Linked DNA regions of Homo sapiens. The protein of the gene in region 1 interacts with the protein of each later gene in a pairwise test. Each region holds a gene or a part of one and is shown on either strand. Other genes may lie near its edges. The genes, in order: CCDC89, TSFM and LRRC45.

The links.
Region 2: the proteins of CCDC89 (region 1) and TSFM interact in binary tests that used the Homo sapiens proteins (3 or more experiments, as listed by UniProt).
Region 3: the proteins of CCDC89 (region 1) and LRRC45 interact in binary tests that used the Homo sapiens proteins (3 or more experiments, as listed by UniProt).

Annotation. Positions count from the first base shown.
Region 1 is NC_000011.10:85,683,332-85,690,153, reverse strand, and holds CCDC89 (coiled-coil domain-containing protein 89), read left to right. Parts: upstream 1-3,958; 5' UTR 3,959-4,023; coding exon 4,024-5,148; 3' UTR 5,149-6,306; downstream 6,307-6,822.
Region 2 is NC_000012.12:57,785,678-57,792,791, reverse strand, and holds part of TSFM (elongation factor Ts, mitochondrial isoform 2 precursor), read right to left. Parts: intron 6,630-7,114; coding exon 6,501-6,629; intron 5,753-6,500; coding exon 5,630-5,752; intron 828-5,629; coding exon of another isoform or gene 765-827; intron 1-764. UniProt on the Homo sapiens protein: Associates with the EF-Tu.GDP complex and induces the exchange of GDP to GTP. It remains bound to the aminoacyl-tRNA.EF-Tu.GTP complex up to the GTP hydrolysis stage on the ribosome.
Region 3 is NC_000017.11:82,026,246-82,031,706, forward strand, and holds the end of LRRC45 (leucine-rich repeat-containing protein 45), read left to right. Parts: intron 1-653; coding exon 654-766; intron 767-1,140; coding exon 1,141-1,199; intron 1,200-1,428; coding exon 1,429-1,506; intron 1,507-1,765; coding exon 1,766-1,901; intron 1,902-1,988; coding exon 1,989-2,066; intron 2,067-2,151; coding exon 2,152-2,263; intron 2,264-2,367; coding exon 2,368-2,438; intron 2,439-2,773; coding exon of another isoform or gene 2,774-2,800; exon of another isoform or gene 2,801-2,847; coding exon 2,848-2,940; intron 2,941-3,297; coding exon 3,298-3,390; intron 3,391-3,819; coding exon 3,820-3,993; intron 3,994-4,073; coding exon 4,074-4,221; intron 4,222-4,363; coding exon 4,364-4,560; 3' UTR 4,561-4,906; downstream 4,907-5,461. UniProt on the Homo sapiens protein: Component of the proteinaceous fiber-like linker between two centrioles, required for centrosome cohesion.

The DNA.
Region 1 (6,822 bases):
GCATAATTTGCTTAACCTCTCTCAACCTTGGTGTCTTTGTTACCTGTAATTGATAAAATGTGGATAATAATGCCTACCCTTCAAGAATATCATTAGAATTAAGTGAGAGATGTACAAATAAATGCCCACTACCTAGAAGAGCTCTGTAAATGGTAGCTTTAAAAGGGAGGGAGGCATGGAAAGACTTAAAGATAAGTGGAGACGACTCATTGATCACCACAAGGGAGAGAATTGGTCACCTTGGATCTCTGGGAAGGGAATATATGGGATACTTTTAGGAGGGGAGCTAGAAAAAAAATGATTGAGCAAAGAAGACAACCACGGCAGAAAGGAACCAAAGTGATTACTAAACTAAGTTATTTGAGGACAGTGATCGTATTTATTTTATTAATATATTCTTAGCACCTAGCATTGCAAATAACCTTGCAAATGTTTACTGAATAAATGAATGAATATTGATTAGGATCTTATCAGATTCTTGGTCTTGATAAGTAATCTATAGATGTGTGTTATTTTAAATAATGTAAATATAAATTTAATAGAAATGTGTATTAAAATATATTTGCAAAAAAGAAATATAAGCTTTTTCAAATGTGGAAAATTTAGCTGAACATGGTGGTACATGCCTGTAGTCCTAGCTGCTTGGGAGGCTGAGGCAGGAAGATTGCTTGAGCCCAGGAATTCAAGACTGCAGTGAGCTATGATGACACTACTGCACTCCAGCTTGGGCAACAGAGACCCTGACTGGTAAAAAAACAAATGTGTATGTATCTTTTTTCCGTATTTTTCTGAATTCTTTTCCTCCTTTCAGGAAATATATTTTGTGAATTCACTTTATGATATCAGACAACCATATAATCAACAAATAAAATTTTCAATGTTTGTAAGACCCTTTTATTTAAGAGGACCATTCTAATTTTCTAGTCATTTGCCTTGAAAATAACTAGACGAACTCCATTTACGCATATGAAGCTTGAAATTTAAGGAAAAGGACAAGAGAAATGTGGGAAAATTACAAATAAGTTTAATTCACATTTTTAAAGTCTTTGGAATTCACTTTCACAAAACTTCAATATCCTACTGTTTATGTAGTTGTTAAAATTTCAGCTTAGGAAATTTCCCCAGTCTTCAATCTTGGTTTCCATATATAGACAAGAAATTCAGGATTTGAAACATGAGACCTTGATCTTTGACAGTGAGGGAAGAACCTGAAACTCTTCTTTCAGATTTGTTTCGCTCCCAGTGAAATCTGAAGCATTTAAAAATTCATCTCATATCTATAATGACACCCAGGGTTTTTCCTTATCATCATGACTTGGGAGATAGTAAATCTGATCACCAGAAACTGTGACCACAAGAATAGTCAACTCTTTTCCCTACCCTTAATTTTCACAGGATTGAAATCATCTGAATTTTAAGTTTTGTATTTTGCCTTTTTCAGTTGTATTTCTAACATAAGACTTTTCCATGCTATTAAAAATTACCTATAAATGTAATAAGTTCTAGTGGCTGTACAATATTTTTTGTATGAATATATCATAATTTTTGTAACCATTCCCTTTTTTTTTTGAAAACTTGGGTTTCCAACTTTTAGTTGTTACAAACCACACTACAATGAAAAGTTTTGAGCAAAATGTTTTCTTTCAGATTATTTCCTAAGCAAAGATCTCCGCAGAAGAATTACTAGTTCGGAAGCCATAAAAATATCTTAATTTCTCAGTACCTACTGTCAACTGACTTTCACCAACAGTTTAAGAGAGTGCCTATTTCAATACTCCTTTCTAGTCCTGGCTTGTCTTAAGAGAAAATTTTTTGACTAATTTGATACGTGAAATTATATCTTTTTTTTTTTTTTTTTTTTTTTGAGACGGAGTCTCGCTTTGTTGCCCAGGCTGGAGTGCAGTGGCGCGATCTCGGCTCACTGCAAGCTCCGCCTCCCGGGTTCACGCCATTGTCCTGCCTCAGCCTCCTGAGTAGCTGGGACTACAGGCGCCTGCCACCACGCCTGGCTAATTTTTTGTATTTTTTTGGTAGAGACGGAGTTTCACCGTGTTAGCCAGGATGGTCTCAATGTCCTGACCTCGTGATCCGCCTGCCTCGGCCTCCCAAAGTGCTGGGATTACAGGCGTGAGCCACCACACCCGGCCGAAATTATGTCTAATTTTAACTTGTATTTATTGGATCACTGTAGACGTTCAGTTCTTGGCCATTTTTGTGAATTTAATTGTTTATTTTTTAGATGTTAATGTTTCGTTGATATGTATAAAATATTTATTTAAAAAAGGTAGTGTCTGGGCTGGGTGCGATGGCTCATGCCTGTAATCTCAGCACTTTGGGAGGCTGAGGCGGGTGGATCATTTAAGGTCAGGAGTTCAAGACCAGCTTGACCAACATGGTTAAACTCCGTCTCTACTAAAAATACAAAAATTAGCCAGGTGTGGTTGTATGTAATTGTAATCCCAGCTACTCAGGAGACTGAGGCAGGAGAATTGCTTGAGCCCGGGAGGCGGAGGTTGCAGTGAATCGAGATCGTACCACTGCACTCCAGCCTGGGCGATGGAGGGAGACTCTGTCTCAAAAAAAAAAAAAAAAAAAAAAAAAAAGTAGTGTCTGTCATATTAGGGATATTTTTCTCAATTTGATTTTTACCTTCAACATCCACTTAATACACATTTATCTGAATCTCCCCCATGTGCCAGGCACTAGTCTAATCATCAAGGATGAAATAGACACAGTCCCTGCCCTTAAGGATCTTACAGTCTAACAGAGGGAAGCTGGCAGATAAACAGTGACTGCAATAAAATTTTCACATCCTCCACCAGAAGTACAAATAGCTATAGCGGATGCACTAAAAGATGTGAGTGACCAATTGGACATGTAGGGGCCAGGAATAGGCTTCAGAGACGATTCTTAACTAAGAATAAAAAGCTTTACTAGAGTGACAAGGGACAAAGTAGGAAAGGCATTCCAAGTAGAGGAACACCTAAAGATAGGGCGAGAGAGCTGGTTAGTGGATTTGGGTTTGGCTTCAATATTTGGGTTTGAGGAGTAAAATGTCAAGAAAATCCAGTGGAAGAAGGGGCTGGAGAGACCTCAGAAGTCACATAATTTAAAAAATTATACATAACTTTTTGAGTAAGCTTTCCCTTTCTGATCTTACATAATGTTTAAGATAAAAAAAAAATCCTTCCTAGCCCCAGAGATTTGATGTTTACCTTCATTTTCTTCTAGTTTCTGTTTACATTTAACTAATCTATCAGGAGTTGACTTTGGCATATAATGGCAAGCTTCATTTGAATCTTATTTTTTCTGTTTTAATGTTTATCTGTGTGGTTCACTAAGCTTCTTTCTGTAACCTTATTTTGCTAATGGGTAAAAACAGGGGGTGTTAAATATCTAATAAAGAGTATTTATGCCCAGGTGGGGACAATGCTAAGAACAACAAAAGAAATTTCACTGGTGTTTTCTATTTTAATACTTAAATACCAAAAGGGAGCTGTGCCAAACATCACGGGTGCAGATATGCAGGCTTTTAGGGTCCTGGCTCTCAGAATACCACTACTACTTTGTATTCATAGACTGAAATTTTTTGAGGAGCCAACCATGTTTCCACAAACAGTAATTTATTCAAACGATAACTGAAGAGGGGAGAGGGAGGATAAATATATCATTGCCTGCTTCATTTGTTTACTACTACCAGAAATTAGGTGGAGTCAGGCTTCCTCCCCTGATGCTGGCTGGAGATTGAGTGGGGTTGGCATCTCTGTGCTGTACAGGCCAGACACTGAGACAGTTGACAACTGAGAGCTGTGATTGGTTAGAAAGGCAAAAGTAACCCGACCAGATTGGCTCTGGACTCCCCCAGATTCCCCTGTTGTTACTTCATAGCATTCTGAAGACCTGTCCACCAATTACAGGGCTCCTTACTGGAAAAACCAACTGCTGGGGAGTGCCAAGAGTCCCTAGCAACACCCTGCAGCGTTTGAAATCTGAGGGGAAAAGACTGTAGTCAGCCCTTAGTGGATGAGAGCGCCTATGCTCCAGAAACAGCAGGCTCCCAGGATGGACACCCCGCCCCCTGAAGAACGCTTAGAGAAGCAAAATGAAAAACTGAACAACCAGGAAGAGGAGACGGAGTTTAAGGAACTGGACGGTCTGAGGGAAGCCTTGGCAAACCTCCGGGGACTGTCAGAGGAGGAGAGGAGCGAGAAGGCTATGCTTCGCTCCCGCATTGAAGAGCAGTCCCAGCTCATCTGCATCCTGAAGCGGAGGTCAGATGAGGCCCTGGAGCGCTGCCAGATCCTAGAGCTGCTCAATGCAGAGCTGGAGGAGAAGATGATGCAGGAGGCTGAGAAGCTCAAGGCCCAGGGTGAGTACAGTCGGAAACTAGAGGAACGCTTTATGACCCTAGCAGCCAACCACGAGTTGATGCTCCGCTTCAAGGATGAATACAAGAGTGAGAACATCAAGCTGAGGGAGGAGAATGAGAAGCTGAGGCTGGAGAATAGCAGCCTCTTCAGCCAGGCTCTGAAGGATGAGGAGGCGAAAGTATTACAGCTCACAGTCCGGTGTGAGGCCCTCACTGGGGAGCTAGAAACGCTGAAGGAGAGGTGTGCTCAGGATGCCTGCCAGGCACAGGCGCGCGAGAAGGAGCTGCTGGAGCTACAGAGCCAGCAGGCCTGCACCCACACCAAGGAGACAGAACAGCTGCGCAGCCAGCTGCAGACCCTCAAGCAGCAGCACCAGCAGGCTGTGGAGCAGATAGCTAAGGCAGAGGAGACACACAGCAGCCTGAGCCAGGAGCTGCAGGCCAGGCTGCAGACCGTCACTAGAGAGAAAGAGGAGTTGCTGCAGCTGTCCATTGAAAGGGGCAAAGTGCTTCAGAACAAACAGGCAGAGATCTGCCAGCTTGAGGAAAAGTTGGAGATAGCAAATGAAGACAGGAAGCATGCGCTGGAGCGGTTTGAGCAAGAGGCAGTGGCTGTGGACAGCAACTTGAGAGTCAGGGAGCTTCAGCGCAAAGTAGATGGGATCCAGAAGGCCTACGATGAACTCAGGCTGCAGTCTGAAGCCTTCAAAAAGCACAGCTTGGATCTTTTAAGCAAGGAGAGAGAACTCAATGGCAAACTCCGCCATCTCTCTCCATAGGGAAGTTTCTGCTTCCTCTGGCCTGCAATTCAGAATTCAAATATTTGCGTCTTAGCATTATGGCAAGAGTAAAGATGATATCCCATTTATTATACTTTCAAGCACAAAAGGCAACTCAAAGAAAAGCTACTTTACTATGATATTGTTGTTATTATTGTAAAGCCATTATTAATTTTCATTTCTACACCTAGAATACACAAGATTTGCCAGATTTCCTTCTGTGCCTTAGAAATCTTAAATTTACTAGTAGTATCTTCTCCTACCCATAAGTTATTAATTCTCAACCTCAGATATCTTCATTTATGTTAGGATTTTAAATTAGCAGCTTCTATGATTTAAGTCAATCTAAGTGCAGTGAGATGTGCCATTGTGAAAAATAATTAGCACAATTACCCACTGTAGATAGTTAGGCTTATAGTCTCCCATAGTTGAGATTGTAAGCAAACATGTATCAGCATAATAGCATGAATGCTTTGCAGAAAAAAAAAAGTGTCTGACTTTATTTTATTTTGCGCTAGCTTGGAAAATGATTGAGATCAAGTTCTTTAACAAAGAAGGTCAATTTTATTCTGTATGAGCAATATGATTCAAATAAGTTATACAAAACAACTTTTATTTTTTCTGCAAGCTTAGATAATATTCCATTTTTTGGTTTTCTCTTTAAAAAGAGGATTTAGATGTGCAATAATGCAAATATCAGTAGCTTAATTTAATATTGCACGATATGCTAATAGACAATTAGACAATTTGGGGTAACAAATCATAGCAGACGTGATCTATAGAGTAACTCAGAAATTGTTTTGTTTCTATTAGCATATTTTTTGTAATTAAGATTTTCCTTTTTTAAAAAAATCTAAGCTGAACGTGTGTATGTATGCTTGCAGCATTTTTGTAGTAATACCTACATTTTGTAAGAATAGTTATAAAAACATGATATATATATATGTAAAGTTCTTAAAAAAGTTCTCAAAGGTAGTTATATTTTCTTATCTTCCTGTAATTAGGTATTGATATATAAACATTATTATGAATACCTCTCAAAATAGATTGTAATGTAATATTTTTCTCACCCATTTTGCTGAAGGCTACCAAGTTACATAATGAATTTACTTAAAAAATATGACTTGGTGCCTTTTTAGTAAAACCATTTCCAAGCAAGTGTTACCTTGCCTCAGGTAATTTTTTACACCCATTTTTTCACACTTCTATTAAGATTATGCTATTAAATACAAACTTTTCTCATCAAAATAGAAACCACACTGCTAGCTTCAAAGGACTATTTACTTCCTTCTACAGGTTACCAAGAATCAGAATATAGGAGCTAAGTTAATCATGGATATCCTTTATTGAGCCCATACTATTTATCATTGCGCTGAAGCAATTTGGATGAATTACTTTATTTAATTCTTAGGACTATTCAAGAAGGAAAGCGTGTTCATTTCTATTTTAAGGAAGAGGAGACTGGTTTTGGTAATTTTGCTTAAGGCCAGTTGGTCACTGGGGGAGCTGGATTTTGATGACTACAGCACACTGAAAGATAATTTTTGGCGACCAAGTGCCAGGTGCTGGGGTAGGCACTAAGAAGAAGCATAAAGAAGCATTTTTACTGCCCTGGAAGAGCCCCCATACAGTCTAAGGGCAAAAATAATAATAATAATTATTATTATTATTATT
Region 2 (7,114 bases), on another chromosome or scaffold:
GGTGAAACCCCGTCTCCAACGAAATACAAAAATTAGTTGGGCATGGTGGCACACGCCTGTAATCCCAGCTACTGGGGAGCCTGAGACGTGAGAATCGCTTAAACCTGGGAGGCGGAGGTTGCACTGAGCTCAGATTATGCCAATGCACTCCAGCCGGGGAAACAGAATTGAGACTCCATCTCAAAAAAAAAAAAGAAAGAAAGAAAACATTCTTTAAGACAACTAAGTGTAGACAATATTTTCATAAAGGCAAGAATGTTAAAAATTGGTAACAGTTCCATCTTTATAAACATTTTATTCTATCACTGCACCACCCCCAATTACATTCCACTCTCATCCTCCAGCCTAACTTCCTAGAATGTAATTTCCTAGAAATCAAGAACAATTATTTTCTTTTTCTTTTAAATATAGAGATGGGGTTTCCCTATGTTGCTCAGGCTGGTCTTGAACTCTTAGCTTAAGAGATCCTCCTGCTTCAGTCTCCCAAAGTGTTGGGATTACAGGCGTAAGCCACTGCACCTGGCCAAGAACAGTTTTTTCTTTTTTTTGAGATGGAGTCTCGCTCTGCCGCCCAGGCTGGAGTGCGGTGGCATGATTTCAGCTTACTGCAACCTCCACCTCCCGGGTTCAAGCGATCCTCCTGCCTCAGCCTCCCGAGTAGATGGGACTACAGGCATGCGCCACCATGCCTGGCAAATTTTTATATCTTTTTTAGTGGAGACAGGGTTTCACCATGTTGGCCACGCTGGTCTTGAACTCCTGACCTCAAGTGATCCACCTGCTTCAGCCTCCCAAAGTGCTAGGTTTACAGGCGTGAGCCACTGCACCTGGCCAAGAACAATATTTTCATAAAATCATAAAATGTTAGAGCTAGATTTGCACATTTTTGATGGGAATGCAAAATGGTACAAATCCAATGGTGTGAAGTTGTAGTATCTAATAAAACTACATATGCATTTATCCTTTGACCCTGAAATCCTATTTCTATGAATTCACCTTGATGATATACTTCCAATAATACTGCACAAGATTATTCATTGAACAATTATTTCTAATCAGAAAATTTTAAAAACAGCCTAAATGCCCAAACATAGCAGGAGATTAAACTATAGCACATCCACACAACAGAATACTATGTAGTTGGAAAAAATAAAAAGGATGACCTTCATGAATTGCTATGGAGTATTTCCAGGACATATTATTAAGTGAAAAAAGCAGATTATAAGTGTATATGCATATTATACTACTATCTGTGCAACAAAGAACTATTTGTATAAATATGCTTATTTTTGCAAAAAGAAATACTGAAAGGATAACCACAATCCAATGACACTGGTTATCTAAATAAAGGGATGGATAGGAACGGGGTAGAAGGGAGAGAAGCAGTAAGACTCCTCTGAGCATACTTTTTTTTTGACAGTTTTAACTTTGAGGACTTTCTTAATGTATCTTATGTATTCAAAAATAAAATTGAACCTGGCCGGCCGGGCGCGGTGGCCCACGCCTGTAATCTCAGCACTTTGGGAGGCTGAGGCGGGTGGATCACCTAAGGTCAGGAGTTCGAGACCAGCCTGGCCAACATGGTGAAACCCCATTTCTACTAAAAATACAAAAATTAGCCAGGTGTGGTGGCGGGCACCTATAATCTCAGCTACTCAGGAGGCTGAGGCAGGAGAATCACTTGAACCCAGGAGGCGGTGGCTGTAGTGAGCTGAGATCATGCCATTGCACTCCAGCCTGGCTAATGAGAGTGAAACTCCATCTTAAAAAAAAAAAAAAAAAATCTGGCCCAGTGCCGTGGCTCATGCCCATAATCCAGCACTTTGAGGAGGCCAAGTCAGGCAGATCACTTGAAGCCAGGAGTTTGAGACCAGCCTGGCCAATATGGTGAAACCTCATCTCTATTAATATAAAAAAGATTTAAAAAACAAACAAAAAACCCCGAAGTGCTGGAATTACAGGCATGAGCCACTGTGCCCAGCCAAAAAAAAAAACACACATTTAAAAAATAAAATTAAAATAAAATTAAATCAACACATACTTGGGGTGAAAATAAATACTGACTACAAAGAAATATAAAACTATATTTCAAATGAGTAACATAAGCTCACAGAAGGAAAAAAAAAATCCAAATAACTAAACGGAGTCATTTGACCACCTAACTTCAATGTAAAGACAAAAAGAACTACAAATAAATCTTGAACTCCTTAGTAGTTTTGTTATTTGCAGTGGTCAGGGGTAGCAATTCTGAAACAATTTTGTATATATATTGTAACACTTAGTACATATGAGTACATAACTAAAAACAGTAAACATATTGAAGTTGCTATGAAAAAGGAAGGATTGAACCACACGCACACAGCACATACACCTGCACTGTCTGCTCGAAGAACAAATGACATCTCAGTAGAAATCAGCACACCTGGCCAGGCGCAGTGGTTCACGCCTGTAATCCCAGCACTTTGGGAGGCCAAGATGGGTGGATCACGAGGTCAGGAGTTCAAGACCAGCCTGCCCAACATGGTGAAACCCTGTCTCTACTGAAAATACAAAAATTAGCTGGGTATGGTGGCACGTGCCTGTAATCCCAGCTACTCGGGAGGCTGAGGCAGGAGAACTGCTTGAACCGGGACCCAGGAGGCAGAGGTAGCAGCGAGCCAAGATCGCGCCACTGCACTCCAGCCTGGGCTACACAGCAACACTCTGTCTCAAAAAAAAAAAAAAAAAAAAAGAAAGAAAGAAATCAGCACACCTAACATTCAAATCTTGATTTCTAAAAACCATTCCCCAACTAAAAAGGACCAGGACTCCTTGAAGAAGTGGCCCATTCCACAGTTGGGGAAAGGAAAGTATGACATAAACCCAAAAGATAAGAATAAACAAAAAAGCCAAAAAGTAAGAAAATACTCAGAAAATAATAAGGGCATATCAAAGGACATTACAGTCAGCTTGCATTGATCAAATCCGCAGATAATTTGAGCATCAAAACGAATAATGAGTTATAACTTATTGTATAAAATAAGAACCCACGAGTCAATGTTAGTGCTGAATAAATCACTAAATAAAAATGAGAAGGGAAATTTATTTCTAACAGTAGAATGACAACTACTAAAACTAACACATTTTGGCTGGGTGCGGTGGCTCACGCCTGTAATCCCAGCACTCTGGGAGGCCAAGGCGGGCAGATCACCTGAGGTCAGGAGTGCGAGACCAGCCTGACCAACATGGCAAAACCCCATTTCTACTAAAAACACAAAAAAATTAGCTGGAAGTAGTAATGCATGCCTATAATCCTAGCTACTCAGGAGGCTGAAGCATAAGAATTGCTCGAACCCAGGAGGTGAAGGTTGCAGTGAGCTGAGATCACAACACTGCACTCCGTCTCAAAGAAAAAAAAATCCTAAATGTGATCACTGTCCTGTGGTTATATAACAATGTCCTTGTTTTTACGAGATACATGCTGAAGGAATAAAGGATCCTGATGTCTGCAACATACTTACAAAAAGATTTTTTTTAAACAGTGATGATGACCGGGTGCAGTGGCTCACGCCTGTAATCCCAGCACTTTGGGAGGCCCAGGTGGGCAGATCACCTGAGGTCAGGAGTCAAGACCAGCCTGGCCAACATGGTGAAACTCCCGTCTCTACAAAAATACAAAAAAAATTAGCCGGGCATGATGGCAGGTGCCTGTAATCCCAGCTACTTGGGAGGCTGAGGTGGAAGAATCGCTTGAACTGGGAGGGAGAGGTTGCAGTGAGCGAGATGGCACCATTGCACTCCAGCCTGGGTGACAGAGAGACTCCATCTCAAAAAAAAAAAAAAAAAAGGGCGATGATAACATGTATATAAAAAGTGATAGGGCCAGCTGTAGTGACCCAAGCCTATAATCCCAACACTTTGGGAGGCCAAAGCAGGTGGATTTCTTGAGCCCAGAGGTTTGAGACCAGCCTGGGCAAGATGGCAAGACTGTCTCTACAAAAAACTTAAAAATGAGCCTAGCATAGTGGTGTGCACATGTAGTCCCAGCTACTCAGGAGTCTGAGGTGGGAAGATCACTTGAGCCCAGGAATTTGAGGCAGCAGTGAACAATGATTGTGCCACTGCACTCCAGGCTGGGCAAGAAAGCCAGATCTGTCTCTTAAAGAAAAAAAGAAGTGATAAAGCAAATACAGCAAAATGTTAATAAATGGCAAATCTGGAAAAAGAGTACACTGGGGCCAGGCATGGTGGCTCACGCCTGTAATCCCAGCACTTTGGGAGGCGGAGGCGGGCGAATCACTTGAGGTCAGGAGTTCAAGACCAGCCTGGCCAACATGGTGAAACTCTGTCTTTACAAAAAATACAAATACTAGGCGTGTGTGGTGGCGGGCGCCTGTAGTCCCAGCTACTCGGGAGTCTGATGCAGAATTGCTTGAACCCAGGAGGTGGAGGTTGCAGTGAGCCAAGATTGCACCACTGCACTCCAGCCTGAGTGACAGAGCAAGACTTCATCTCAAAAAACAAAAACAAAAATAAAAAAAAAAAGGGTACACTGGTGTTTACTGGCAAAATCAAAGCTAAAATTTCTAGTTCAAGTGACTTACCTACTCAATACAATTAAAAAAAATAATCTCAACATTGTTTTCCATATGACTATGTAATGCCAATAATAATTAACATTTACCAAGACATCTCAAGAGAAGGATAAAGAAGATAAAAAAAGTTGGTAATAAACTCAAAAAAATTACTGTGAGTGGTTGGTTCATCTTTGCCTTGGCAATAAGGCTGAGTCAAAGGCAGAATGACATAATTCCTTTCCTTGATCCCTCTATGGATAAGAATATGCTTATTTTCCTAAACCATGTCTTTTCCAATCTCTCTCTCTTTTTTTTTTTCTGAGACGGAGTTTTGCTCTTATTGCCCGGGGGGAGTACAACGGCTCACTGCAGCCTCTACCTCCCGGGTTCAAGCGATTCTCCTGCTTCAACTTCCCAAGTAGCTGGGATTACAGGCAAGCGCCACCACGCCCAGCTAATTTTGTATTTTTAGTAGAGACGGGTTTCTCCATGTTGGTCAGGCTGGTCTTGAACTCTCGACTTCAGGTGATCTGCCTGCCTCGGCCTCCCAAAGTGCTGGGATTACAGGGGTGAGCCACCACACCTGGCTCCAATCTCTTTATTTAGAAATTCTTTCCTAAGACCATTCCAAATTTCTGAACACAAAGCCTCAAATGGCTTCACTTGATCTGGCTAACTCCATTTCACTGGCATGCATGCATTCAATCATTCATTCATTCATCTGACAAAGATTTACTGAGCTCCAACTAAGTAGTGGGCCCAATTCTCTTTCACCAGAGATACAACAGTGAAAAGACAAATTCCCTGCCTCATAAAGCTTACATTCTGCTGGGGAAGATAGACAACACACAGATAAATTAAAATGTAATATATAAGCACCATAATAAAAAATTTTAAATGCAGCATGACACGGGGATATAGCAACGGGGGAAGGGTAATTCTATGCAAAGAGATAGCATTTAAGCAGAGATGTGAAGTAACAGAATGAGACATGAGAATGTCTACAATAGGAACAGCAAAAGACCCAATGAGGACAGCAAATTCAGCACACTGGAGACAAATCCCAAACTTACTTTACTGTATGCAGAGGGTTGATCCTTTAGGGTCTGACAATGCATCATGGTTCCAAGGGCTACTTGCTGGACCAACAGTTGAAATTTTAAATTTCTAGAAACAAAATCTGTCTCACAGTTTACCTGTGGGAACAAATTGATATAGCTGTATAAGCTGTTTAATGATAATTTCCAAAAGTGCCTTAAGGCTGGAGAATAAATCAAGATACTGATAGAACAAGCTACAGACTCAACGGAAAAAAAATGACTCCAAAATTTTAAAGCTACGCTTCCTCTCCTAGCCTGGAACAGAATGAAGTGATTTATGTTGGGCCAGTGAGTTAGCAATAGCCTGTATATTCAGAAGATGGTTCAATAATGTCCTGAAGGACTCACCACAAGTTCACCACTTACCTATGTCTGCACACCATCATCACCTCATTCTCCAGCCATCCCAACTCCAAACCACTTATGCTATTATCTTGTTTATCCCCATCTCTCACTCTAAACTAATCCACATCTGACTCTTCACCAATTATGGCCCCCAAACCTCCTCTAAAATACCTACTCTCTATTCAGCAACAATTAATATAATTAACTTGTAATCTAACTGTTCCAGGAAACAATCAGTGACAAGGTGTAAGCCTGTGCCAGACTCACATTCAGGAGTAATATTCTAGACTGTCAGGCCATTTCTCATCAACACACCAGTACATTTCTATACTTAAACGAATTCGTAACTAATACCCAGGGTTTCATGAGTTTAACTTCAACTACGCTTTATGGTTCTTAAACAGATCTCTTCTTCAAGAACAGGCCCCTTTAGGGCCTACTACAAGCTTTACACCCAAGGGACAGCTGTTCTTGGTATCTGGAATTTCCAACAACTCACCTCTACTAATACAGTTGTGTTTCCTTCCTGCAACAGCCCAATCAGGCCTTCTTTGGTCTTCCTCCCTTGGAGCTTGGCAGCTTTGCTCCAGCCCTCCTTCTGGGCCTCCTTGTGGAGCCAGATCTCTGCCTGTAAATTGAGAGGAAAAAGAGCAGACAACAAAGTCACAGAATTTAGCACTAAATGTAGTTCTAAGATATACTCAGGTTTCCTGATTCTCTAAATTCTCTAACAGAAACTAAAGTAATCTATCATTTACTGGCAGTCTACCACTAAATGCCAAATACCAGGTATTATTATAACTGGTGCCTTGGATGAATCTAATCTTCACAACAACCCTATGGGGCACACAGTTGTATTTTCTTTATACAGTTACGCACCACATAACGATATTTTGGACAATGACGGACTGCATATATGATGACGGTCCCTAAGATTATAATGGAGCTGAAAAATTCCTATTGTCTAGTGACACGGTAGTCCTCCTAACATTGTAGGGCAACATATTACCTACATGTTTGTGGCAATGCTAGTGTAAAGAAAACGTCTGTGCTGCCAGTCCTATTAAAGTATAGCACATACAATTACATATAGTACATGATACTTGAAACAAT
Region 3 (5,461 bases), on another chromosome or scaffold:
CCTCAGCATTGTGCAGTGCCCCTTGACCTTTGGGATGGTGGCCAGATGCCCCAGGATGGCCCTTGCCTTTTGCGGTGGAGCAGCTCCCACCACCTCTGCCCCACATGTGCACGCGCTCCCCAACACCAGGCGGCTCTTGCTCACAGCCCGAACCCCACAAAGCACTTCCACCCCCATGCACTGAGGGGGCACCCCTGACTTGCCGGGTGAGACGCTGCCCCACACGGCATAGATTCCCAAGCAGCCAGCCGCTGGGTGCAGGGCTGGTGGCCACCAGCTACTCCTGAGGCTAAGCAGCCCCGGGGTGACACAGCTCCTTTGTGTGTGTGTGTGTGTGTGTGTGTGTGTGTGTGTGACTGAGTTTCACTCAGTCACCCAGGCTGGAGTGCAGTGGCGCAATCTCGGCTCACTGCAACCTCCACCTCCCGGTTCAAGCGATTTTCCTGCCTCAGCCTCCCGAGTACCTGGGATTACAGGTGTGCGCTACCATGCCCAGCTACTTTTTTGTATTTTTAGTACAGATGGGGTTTCACCATGTTGGCCAGGCTGGTCTCGAACCCCTGACCTCAGGTGATCCACCCACCTCGACCTCCCAAAGTGCTGGGATTCCAGGCATGAGCCCCTGTGCCCAGCTGACACAGCTCCTTCTGCAGAGCAAGCCATGGGCCACAGCCAGGACCGGCTCACCACCTTCCAGGAGAACCAAGCCCGCACTCACGTCCTCAGCAAGGAGGTCCAGCACCTCCGGGAGGAGAAGTCCAAGCAGGTGAGGATGGCGCCTTCACTGACCTTGGAGCTGCTTATGGCTGGAGGGCCTGGCCACGTCCTTCCTCCCTCAGCCCCGTGGTCTGCCCATCTTCCCTTCCTCGGGGCCCTGGAGCCTCTCTGAGTGGCTGGTACCAGGAAGGAGGGGCGGCCTCCTGGTCTGATCTGCAGGTGGACTTCCTTGGGGAGCTGGCGTCTGAGCCCTGAGGCCTCGCTCTGCAGGGGCCACCCTTCCTGTGAAGGAGACAGGGCACCGTGGGTGGAACCCTCCGCTGCCTTGCCACATTGGTGGGCGCTGGCTCTCCTTCCCCCTGAGAAGGTCAGGTGGACAGGCTGCAGGTGCCCTGACAGGGCTGCGGCTGTCTCTGTCCCCAGTTCCTCGACTTGATGGAGACTATTGATAAGCAGCGAGAAGAGATGGCCAAGAGCAGCAGGTGAGCGGGCCCAGGGCAGGGGCAGGGTGAGGCTTCAGGGATCAGGTCCTGGCTCAGACTCAGATGGGACCAACCTGAGCCCACGAGTGAGGCCACGAGGAGGTCGCTGGAGGCTCAGTGCCCAGGCGACCATAGATGCTTAAGGAACAGCAGCAGCTACCGAGGCCAGAGGGGTATGGGAGCGCTCTGGGGTTTGGGTTACTCTCTGCACCCTCCTCTCTGCCCACAGGGCGTCGGCAGCCCGTGTAGGGCAGCTTCAGGAAGCCCTGAATGAGAGGCACTCCATCATCAACGCTCTCAAGGCCAAGTAAGTGGGGGGTGGCCTCAGGATACTTCAGAGACGTGCCCACAGGGCAGAGAAAGGTGGTGTGAACCTGTGTGCAAGTCCTGTTTGCAAAGCAGAGGTGGGAAATGGTGAGGCTGGGGCAGTAACCCAGAAGCCTTCCTGGAGGAGGCGGGTGCTGGCTGGGGTTGACTAGGTGCCCAGCAACAGTGAAAGCAGCGAGGCCTTTATAAGGCAAGTGAAACTCCAACCGGGGCGGGGGTGCTGCCCCTCCTTTCTGCAGGCTGCAGATGACAGAGGCCGCCCTGGCTCTGTCGGAGCAGAAGGCCCAGGACCTGGGGGAGCTCCTGGCCACAGCGGAGCAGGAGCAGCTGAGCCTGTCACAGAGGCAGGCCAAGGAGCTCAAGCTGGAGCAGCAGGTGGGTGGGCAGGGCTTGAGAGGGGTGGGCCAAGGGGTGCGTGGCGGCTTCGTGACCCTCACTACCCATACCCCGTTCCCCTCCCAGGAAGCTGCAGAGCGGGAGTCTAAACTCCTCAGAGACTTGTCTGCTGCCAATGAAAAGAACCTGCTTCTGCAAAACCAGGTAGCTGTGGTGGATGGAGCCAGGGAGCCCAGGGTGGGCGCGGCAGGGCTGGGCTGCAGCTTCCCTCCCTGGTGCCGGCTTTCAGGTAGACGAGTTGGAGCGGAAGTTCAGGTGTCAGCAGGAGCAGCTGTTCCAGACCAGGCAGGAGATGACCAGCATGTCAGCTGAGCTGAAGATGCGGGCCATCCAGGCCGAGGGTGGGCACGGGCAGGCCTGCTGTGGAGGGGCCTGGGGATGGGCACCGGGGGACGGGGGCCCCCAGGGGATGCTCACGCATACTCTGCCCACCCTGGGCTTCCAGAGCGCCTGGACATGGAGAAGAGAAGATGCAGACAGAGCCTGGAGGACTCCGAAAGCCTGCGCATCAAGGAGGTGCCCTCTTCGTTGGCCTCTAATGCGCCTCAGTCTCTGGTCTTGGTGTCACGCAGGTGTCCCCAAAGCACACACCTGGTGGGAGCTTCCCTTGCCAACCTTGGGTCACTGGGTGGCCGTATTTTGCCAGCCTGAGCGGATGTCAGACCCAGAACCTCCTATTGGGGGCGGCGGGGGGACCCCGGCAATGTCTGAGCCGTAGTACAGGCTGCCGTTGAAGAGACACCAAGGCCCACTCGTTCAGGGTGTGCATGCTGCGGTAGTTTCCTGCTAGGCCATCTGAGGCAGTGCTTTCTCAGAATGAACAAGGTTCTCAAGAGACACCTGCCTTTCAGGGTGGGGAGTCCGTGAGGAGAAGGTAGGGAGGCCCGCTCTCCACTCTGGCCCCACAATCCCTGCCCCTGAGCAGGTGGAGCATATGACCCGTCACCTGGAGGAGAGTGAGAAGGCCATGCAGGAGCGGGTGCAGAGGCTGGAGGCGGCGCGGCTGTCCCTGGAGGAGGTGAGTGCCCACCAGGCAGGGCCAAGCTCTGCCTTAGTCCTGGGCTGAACAAGGCAGGGGCCCCTGGTGTTCGCCGCCTCAGGACCAGAGACCTCTTCCTGTTCCCAGAGGCTCATAGGCCCCACCTTGGGGACCCACCCACCAGTGTGCCCAAGAAGCTAAAGGGACTTAGGTGGCATTCGGACTTCCTTGGCCTTAGGAACCTTGCCCAGCGAGCTAGGTGGCAGAGCAGCTGCGTGGCCCTCAGGAGGCTGGCAGAGAGGAGCCCCCCTGGCTGGGGTTGGCTGGATGGGCCAGAGAGAGAAGGGCCCTGGGCCAGGGACAGGAGAACGGGCTGGCAGGTGGCCATCTGTGCAGGAGCTGAGCCGAGTGAAAGCAGCGGCACTCAGCGAGCGTGGCCAGGCTGAGGAGGAGCTGATCAAGGCCAAGAGCCAGGCCCGCCTGGAGGAGGTGAGCCACACATGTCCGCCACCCTCCGGGGGAGCCAGGCTGCCCGGCATTGCGGCCCGCATGCAGACTCCAGAGCTTCGGTCTGAGTGGGGAGGCGGGAGTGTGGTGTTGAGGTCAGATGAGCACACCCTGGACACTGGTGGGTCCGCTTCAGCCTTGGATCAGGGCCTGAGACGGTGGAGAGGTTTGGCCCATCTCTGCAGCCTGTGACTACACGCATGGATGGATGGGAGGGGTGGTGTGACCGAAGAGGGAGGAGGAGAGCCCAGAGGGCATCTGGAGGAGGTGGCTGCCAGGGGAGCGGGTTCAGAGTCATAGTAACTAGAGCAGCCAGTCCTGCAGAGAGGTGGGGTCGTGCCCGTGCAGACATTCCCTCAGCTGAGCTCAGGCTGAGCCCCTCATGCTTCGTGGCGGCCCCTGTGCTCACAGCAACAGCGCCTGGCTCACCTGGAGGACAAGCTGAGACTGCTGGCGCAGGCACGGGACGAGGCGCAGGGCGCTTGCCTACAGCAGAAGCAGGTGGTGGCCGAGGCCCAGACCCGGGTCAGCCAGCTGGGCCTGCAAGTTGAGGGCCTGCGGCGGCGCCTGGAAGAGCTGCAGCAGGTAGGCGGGGCTCCGGTGGGGGGCCCCGGGCGTGCTAGCCCCCAACCCTCGCCTCACTCCCCAGCCTTCGTGCCTGGCAGGAGCTGAGCCTCAAGGACCAGGAAAGGGTGGCCGAGGTGAGCAGGGTGCGCGTGGAGCTGCAGGAGCAGAACGGCCGGCTGCAGGCGGAGCTGGCGGCTCAGGAGGCGCTGAGGGAGAAGGCGGCGGCCCTGGAGCGCCAGCTGAAAGGTGAGCCAGACCCTTGTCCTCCCGCCGCCCACTGGTGGGACGTGAGGCCAGCCAGAGAGCGGGGCTGGCCAGGTCTCCCGTGCTGAGGCCGTGCCACGGTGCGCTGGGGCTGCGTCCGCTCACTGCGCTCCTTGCCCTGCAGTGATGGCGAGCGACCACCGAGAGGCGCTGCTGGACAGGGAGAGCGAGAACGCGTCTCTCCGGGAGAAGCTGCGGCTCCGGGAGGCGGAGATCGCCCGCATCCGGGACGAGGAGGCCCAGAGGGCGAGCTTCCTGCAGAACGCCGTCCTGGCTTACGTGCAGGCGTCCCCCGTGAGGACCCTGAGCCCCCCAAAGTGAGACAGGCCGGGAGGACCCGGGCGCAGTAGGAGTGCATCAGGCGGCGCCCGAGATGGACCAGGGGCTGCGTCCCGCCCGCGCCGCCTCTTTGAGACCCGGGTCGTCTGTTCCACGCGGCGGTTGCGGCGACTGTTGGTGGTGTCGCGGCTGCGGGGGAACCCCGTGGGAGGCGCCTGGGAAGGGCTCCCTACCGGCCCCTTCTTCCCGGTCGACGCCACGTGGGAGCACACCGGGAAGGGGTCCCGCGGGCGCGTCTCCCCCTCGCCTTTTGCGATGTCACCGTGAACGCTGCGGCCGCCTGCGCGCGGCGGGGTTTGGAAATACAGCGCGTTTGCACTTTGTGATACATTCTGGCCCCGCCTCTCCCTCCAAACGCGCGACCGTCCGTGCCTCTCCAAACGCGCGGCCCTCTGCCCCCAGCCCTGCAGGGAGGGCCTGCCGGGGTGCGGCTGTTCGCCCCTCCTCGCCGCTGCCTTGAAGGGACGGGAGGGCCGCGGGGGCTGTCCGTCTGGGGGTTCGGGCGGCTGCAGACCCCGGAGTTCCCAGCTGGCTCCCGGCGGCAGGGGGCGGGTCCCCGAGAAAGCGCAGCGCGCGGAGCCCTCCCCGCCGGGTCCAGGTCGCTGGGCTCTCTCCGGCCTGCGCTGCGCCCCGAGGGACCCGTAGGAGACCCCCGGGCCGGGGTCGCGCTGGAGGCGGGGGCGCCGCAGCTCGCGCAGCTCTGCCCGGGTTCGGGCGGCCCCGCCCCGCCAGCCGCGCGGCCGGGCGCCCCCCGCCCGCCCCCGCCCCCGCCCCCCGCCCCCCGCCGGCCGCGCTCGGCTGTCTCCGCGCCCGGCGCTCGGCGGCGCTCGGCTGTCTCCGGCCGATCGCTCGGCGCTCGGGTCCGCGGCCGCTGCGGCGCCGG